Linked DNA regions of Homo sapiens. The protein of the gene in region 2 interacts with the protein of the main gene of each other region in a pairwise test. Each region holds a gene or a part of one and is shown on either strand. Other genes may lie near its edges.

Region 1 (3,753 bases), on a different chromosome or scaffold from region 2:
GTGGCTCAGGCATGAGAATCACGTGAACCCAGGAGGCGGAAGTTGCAATGACCCGAGATAGTGCCACTGCACTCCAGCCTGGGCAACAGAGCAAGACTCTGGCTCAAAAAAAAAAAAAACAAAAATAAAAAAAAAATAAAATTTAGGTGTTTCACATTTTTTTTTAATTCTAAGGCTTTGAAACCCAATTTGTATTTTACATTTAAAGCATGTCTCAATTCAGACTAGTACATTTCAGCTCCATGGCTGGTGGCTACTATATTAGAAAGCAGATTTGTCTAAAGCAAAGGCATAGCTCAAATCATTTCTCTGGGAACCTCCCAATTTATTCCTCATAATTCTCCTCATATTAGTAACAATTCAAAATTAGTAATAATGTGGCAAAACATTTGTACTTCAAAAAATATTGCACCATAATGGTTAAAGAAATTGGTTCTGTGGTGTCAAACTTTAGAGTCTGAATCTTGAATCAGCATCTAACTTTACAGACCTGGATTCACTTAGCCTCAGTATTCTCAAATAGTGGAGTTATCTACTTCACTGTGGTTGAAAGGATTAAATGGGAAATTCGAGTAAGGCACCTACAAAGTCTGGTAAGTAGTCTGGGTACTCAATGAAAATTAGTTACAGTTGCTAGAGGTAGATGGGACTGCCATCAACAGAAACTAGCAAAGATTTCACAACTTATAAATAGGTTAAAGGAAATACAACTGCTTCATACTGCATATGAAAAAACCAAGGTGTTTACCTGGATGATCCTGCCAGTTAAAAACTATTACAAGAATTAGGGGTCAATCATGGAATGAATGCATATTGCTCTTCCCACTACAAAAAAGCTAATTTGACAACCTTAAACACTGTGATAGAGAACTTATCCAGAGTGATAATCCAGCAAAGTATCTGCCCTTTTCCTCCTAATGAAAATGTAAGCTCACTATCCTAAAAGTTACTTTGAAAAATCCCTAATGCTGGCCAGACTCAGTGGTTCATGCCTGTAATCCCAGCACTCTGGGAGGCCCAGATGGGAGTATTGCTTGAGACCAGGAGTTTGAGACCAGCCTGATCTAAATAGCAAGACCCCATCTCTACTAAAAAATAAAAATTAAAAAAATAAAACCAACCTCACAGAGTTCTTGGGAAAAGAAAATCAGGAAATACATATAGAAGCTTAATACATAATCTAGTAAAGAACAGGCTCTCATCTTAAACTATTATCTTACAGAAGGCACACAAATATCTGACATAGAAAATAACAGGTACATAAAAGTAAAAATACGGAAAAATAATGTTTTCTGGAAGTATTTAAAGCCAGGGCCTTGACAGTATCTCTCTAGATAGGTAAGATGTGCTTTTCTGCTTTCATATTTTTCGTAATTATGTGTTGCTCTTCTAATACAAAACACAAAACTTTACAAGAAATATATGCATTTAAATTGACTTTTTTTTTTTTTTTTTTTTTTGGAGACAGAGTCTCACTCTGTCACCCAGGCTGGAGTGCAATGGCATGATCTCGGCTCACTGCAACCTCTGCCTCCCCGGTTCAAGCGATTCTCCCACCTCAGCTTCCCAAGTAGCTGGGACTACAGGCGCGTGCCACCACACCTGGCTAATTTTTGTATTTTTAGTAGAGACGGGGTTTCTCTATGTTGGCCAGGCTGGTCTCGAACTCCTGACCTCGTGATCCACGCACCTCAGCCCCACAAAGTGCTGGGATTACAGGCATGAGCCACGGCGCCCGGCCTAAGTTGACTTTTTAATAACTGTGATCACCATCAGCAAGATAGAGTAGAAAATCCCAGCCTTCCTTCCCCTCCACGTTTTGCAACTATCTGTGAATGAAAATAAAAGCTGTTGTGATCATTTATTTTGACATCCAGTTAAATCTTCATTACTTAGCATTTTAATGAAAATTATCTTTTTAAATATGCAAAACAACCATTTTAAATTATCTGGAACTATGTATTTTTAAATTAACAGGGTGGCCTAATATTAAGACAATTATCGTTTTTTCAATTACAAATCTCCACAATGAAACCAACTAACAAGATTCTGTACTAACCTTGAAAAGTCAGCATACCCTCTGAACGCAACTTTTTACTATAATTCTATTGGTCATCATTATTAATATATCTATGCATAATTTAGATTACGCTCAAATTCCACTTAATATTAAATCAAGCTAAACAGGGAATTATAGAAATATAGTACTTTGAGATTTGTTTTGTAGACAGTTACACGGTGGAAGCAGACAGCTCTAAAAGTAATTAACTCTGGCCAGGCGCGGTGGCTCACGCCTGTATTCCCAGCACCTTGGGACGCCGAGGCGGACAGATGGAGGCCATCCTGGAGATCGAGAACATCCTGGCCAACATGGTGAAACTCCGTCTCTACTAAAAATACAAAAAATTAGCTGGGCGTGGTGGTGCGTCCCTGAAATACCAGCTACTCAGGAGGCTGAGGCAGGAGAATCGCTTGAACCACTGAGTCAGAGGTTGCAGCCAGCCAAGATTGCACCACTGCACTCCAGCCTGGTGACAGAGCAAGACTCCGTCTCAAGAAAACAAAAAAATGTAACTCTACCTTCTGCAGAAAGTGACTGAAATCTCAGAGCTTACAGGTTCCCTTCGAACATCATGGAAACTTTCCTATGAGCCAGAAACTGAGTGACTTACTTCCAACTTCTATTTAAAATTATACTCATGGTCGGGCGTGGTGGCTCACACCTGTAATCCCAGCACTTTGGGAGGCCGAGGAGGGCGATCATTTGACGTCAGGAGTTCGAGGCCAGCCTGGCCTACACAGTAAAACCCCGTCTCTACTAAAAATACAAAAATTAGCCGGCCATGTTAGCACATGCCTGTTGTCCCAGCTACCTGGGAGGCTGAGGCAGGAGAATCACTTGAACCTGGGAGGTGGAGGTTGCAGTGAGCCGAGATCGCACCACTGCGCTCCCACCACTGTGCTCCCACCCGGGCAAAAGAGCAAGATTCTGTCTCAAAAAATAAAAATAAAATGAAATTATACTCAGCCCAAGGCCATACAAATTGCAATGCTATTACAAAGACTAATATATATTTATACATCAGTTAAAAAGCACTTTAATGATGCAAATGAGCCGGAGGTTTCTGTGGGGTAATGGAACGTTCTGAAGGAAGACTGTGGCGGTGGTTACACAACTCTGTAAATACACTGTCATTCAACTGTACACTTAAAAAAGGTTGTTTTATAGAATATACATTCTACCTCATTAAAACTTTCTTTTTCAAGACACCTTAAATGTCCAGTAGTATAAAACCTAAGATGCTACTTTAGGTATGAGAAGTACAAAAGTACAAAGCCTATAATGTTATTTTATATAACAGCATAGCCCACCAACAAATGCTTAATTAACATCTTCCCATTCTCTCTCATCCCCGCAGATTTATAGGGCTACGAACATGCACAAATCAAGTTTCTAATATCTCTAACTATAGAGCCACTGTTAAATGCAGAACAATGTATTTAGCATGCCACCATTTGTGTACATACTATTTTTTAAAGGCTACCCTAATTTTAGGTAAAATATTCAGATCTTCAGCGTTTCACTGGTTCCAATTAATTTGTGAAATGAAGTTTCAGTTCTACTACAAAAACTTTAATCAAAGTCTACAGAGTACTGCCTCAAGGCATGATAACTGACTTTGAAACTCATCAATGGCAATTCACACTTACGGCCAAATGTGTGTCTTCTGCCTATACGGGGTAAGAGGAGGG
Region 2 (3,753 bases):
CTAAATATGTACCTTCTGTTTCGCAAATCCAGGATCAATCACAAACACCACACCATCTATTGTCAAAGACGTCTCTGCTATGTTAGTTGACACAACTACCTGTTAAGAAATAGAGTATATAAATTATATTACATATCAAATAAAATTAACAGGACTGTTAAAGATCAGCCACTAACTTTCACTGACACAAGGAATTTCAAGCCAGCAAATAAACTAGAAATATCATTTGATCTTCAATGGCCAATGCTTTAAAAAGGTAAATTAATATTTAAGGAACCAAAATTTTGTTTACACCACAACAGCAACTTCTTTCTCAACAAAGCTATTACTTCAGGTTATCACTCAACCGCATTACATTTTGCTTAATCAAATTAATGGACAGCATAAAAAGAAAAATACTGATGAAGCAATATAACGTGCCTTACAAAACGTCTGATAAAACAGCCCTTATAATTAGTATTCAAATTTCCACAAGTGTATATTTCAATGTTTTTGGGCAATATTTACAAATGAAAACTTCGTTATTTATATCACCAAAATTCAACTCAACATTTTAAACAAAATGCCACATGGAAAAAAACTCAAGTTATAATCCAGTAAGAATGGACAGATCAGCAGAATCAAATGTAAATATTTCGGTAAGTGCATGGTCTCAACGGGATGACATGTAATACGTTACTACATACAAAGCAACTGTTAAGAACTATAATTCTTTATTGACGGAAAATGTTTAAAGCATTTACATACTAATATGATAGCTTGTTTGGTATACGTGCATGTTTTACTATATATTACATATGTTTTAGAAAATTAGTTAAGGACTTGGGAAATACATGTTACATATAATTTTTTTTTAAACAATGGGAAATGGGGATTCCTCATTAGTATTTTAACTCAGGACATGATTTTCAGGAACAGGTTACTGATATTAAGTTGAAGATGTCTGTATATGCAAGCAATTGATACAGAAGATGAATCAAACAGAGTCTGCTTTTACCATTTGTAAGGGATGATTAGACATGGATAGAAAGTGTGAGTGGCACCAAAGACACACTGTGAAATTTAAAAAGGTTTACTTCCATAGCAAAGTCAAGAAAAGCTTTACTGAAAAATAATAGCATTTAGGACAGTCCTTGACGGTAAGGTTAAGACCTACTCATGAGAGAAGGAAACAGCACTAGCACTAAAGTTCCATCTTAAAAAAACACATGTGGGAGAAATGCCTATGGGCACATACAAAAAATGAAAAGATTTATATTTATCCCTATTTTATTTTAAAAACACTTAATTTTATAAATCAAATAGCTTTAAAAATCATAGGCTTTTGCTGCATTAACTATTTTACTTAATATTAACACTTTCATTTTCTGATTTCATATTTACTAAGTAGTAGACTTCCCAAAATACTAACAGGAAACCTCAGGGATTTAAAAACATAATAGCAATCTACCAAGAGGGTATTTCAGAATAATTTACAAGTCAAAAACCAAAATGTTTCCTTTTGTCAGTTGAAAAGACTGACAACTAGCAAAGGAATAAGAAACCACATGTGGTTTGATGATGTTGCTGAAATACATTCTTCAGGACATTTAGAAAAATAATCAGCAACTAGAACTGAAGCAAACAACGACATACATAAGGTTAACAGGTGAAACTTGAATAAGCATAACCGGCATTTAATATTCTAGAAAGTCAGTTTCTTGTAGTTAAAGAAGCGATGAATTTAGAGGTAACTGGCAGACCTAGCAATCAAACCTGAGTGGCTAAAGTAACTGGAAAGGTTTTAACACCCCCAAGCTTGTATTCCTTTTATAACTTGCATATTACTTAGTCTACATAACACAGGGTTGTAGGGAATAAATTATGTAAGGATGTGGAAATGCTCTATAAACTATACAGAATAGGCCAGGCATGGTGGCTCACATCCGTAATCCCAGCACTTAAAAAGGCCAAGGAGGATTATTTGAGTCCAGGAGTTTGAGACAAGCCTGGACAACATAGTAAAACCCCACCTCTACAAAAAAATAAAAGAAATTAGCCAGGCATGGTGGCACATGCTTGTAGTCCCAGCTACCGAGGAGGCTAAGGTGGGAGGACTGCTTGAGTCCAGGAGGTTCAGGTTGCAGTGAGCTATGATCATGGCACAGAACTCCACCCTAGGCAACAGACTGAGACCCTATCTCAAATCTATACAGAACCAACTACATGCCTGTAAATACAGAAGACGTCTTCTGGCTTTCTGGAATTCTGGGGTGAAAACCATAGTTCTGAAAATATTTATGAAGAAAATCACTTTTAAAAAAGTTGTTCTGGGAAAAAATACATTTCACATATTTCTTCTATAACATAATACAATGTGATAAAAATTTCTCATGTGACCAACTCTTTAGTTACCATTATAAAAAGTTAATTTTTCTCCACAAAATAATTTCATCCTGTGTGTATGTTTTTTGTCTGGGTGAGTGTATTAAATTCTGTAATACTTAACAATTCGCGGATACATGATTCTGCAAGTGTTTAAGAATCAAATGATTTATGCCAACTTGGCAAACCCTCGTCATTATTGATATTAGTAAGAGCCTATTGCCAGCCAAAAGTCAAACCCTAAAATACAAGTGTTAAATTGAGTCCTTAACAAAAAAGCACAAGTTTTAGGCCTTTCTCAAGGACTAAAAATAGCTAAGGCTAAATACACACACACACAATGCAAAAGCGAACTAATAAATGACAAGATAAAAGCTTCTTTGGTACTTCAGCAGTTGAGTGAGGCAAGCCCTAACCATGTTCTAATTGTAAATGGCACACCATACAACCAGGAACCCATCAGGAGACAAAATGACCTTGAATTTGTCAAGGGATTTACATTATGACCAGTAAGAATCAATATAATTGTTACATGCTTTCTAGACTGCAACACTGCAGTAAGCGTTCAAAGAGCCTTAAAAAGTGTTCAAACCGCATTGACTAATATGGAACAGACCCTATGGTGAAAAGCTTGGCATCACTGTCAGGACATGCTAAGAGTAAATTTTCCTCCCTCAATAACCTGCCTTCTAATAGAACTCACTTTTTTTCTAATAGAACCACTTCCCCCCACTCCGCCCCCAATAACTCCACTTCAAAGTAGAACTCGCAGTACTTCATTTGCCCTACCTGAATACTGTCTGGACACAATAATGCATTTAAACTAATTTGGACTTTTAGTCCCCAGGGAACTCTGTGGTGGTCTCCAACACAAGGACATCAACTTATTTGCTTATAAACATCCCAGCAGCACCACAGTAAGCTATCTTCAGATCCTGGATCATTAAGTCTTTCTTTAAAACTACAGGACCATCTCCACAAGGGCCATTTCTCTTTTTCACTGAGCAATGTATGCTCTGAACCATATTAATCAGCGAAATGTAGGATCAACTATAGAAAAGTCAGCTATTTGTATGAACAAAATTAATGAACACTAAATATTTAAAAAATAATTATAGTTGTATTTTAATAACAACCAAATCCACAAAATAGCAATTTTAAGTCTCAGTCAAAAAATGCAGAAGTTATCTACTGAAGAGTAAACTTGAATGCATGTAAAGAATTACTGTAACTTTTAACTTAGTCAAATACTTGAATAAACTTCAAAAATTATCAAGAGGTAAAAATATTTACCCTCATATAAATATATGTTGCATTCTCAACCTTTCTTGATTGCTAAAAACTTGAAATCGTTCACCATTAGTGCTGTAACATGTTTAAAAGGCTGTT

What was found. Proteins that work in one complex are often made in the same cells at the same time.
Region 1: the proteins of DHX15 (region 2) and FXR1 interact in binary tests that used the Homo sapiens proteins (3 or more experiments, as listed by UniProt).

What each region holds. Positions count from the first base shown.
Region 1 is NC_000003.12:180,915,655-180,919,407, reverse strand, and holds part of FXR1 (RNA-binding protein FXR1), read right to left. Parts: intron 1-3,753. UniProt on the Homo sapiens protein: mRNA-binding protein that acts as a regulator of mRNAs translation and/or stability, and which is required for various processes, such as neurogenesis, muscle development and spermatogenesis.
Region 2 is NC_000004.12:24,542,928-24,546,680, forward strand, and holds part of DHX15 (ATP-dependent RNA helicase DHX15), read right to left. Parts: intron 100-3,753; coding exon 13-99; intron 1-12.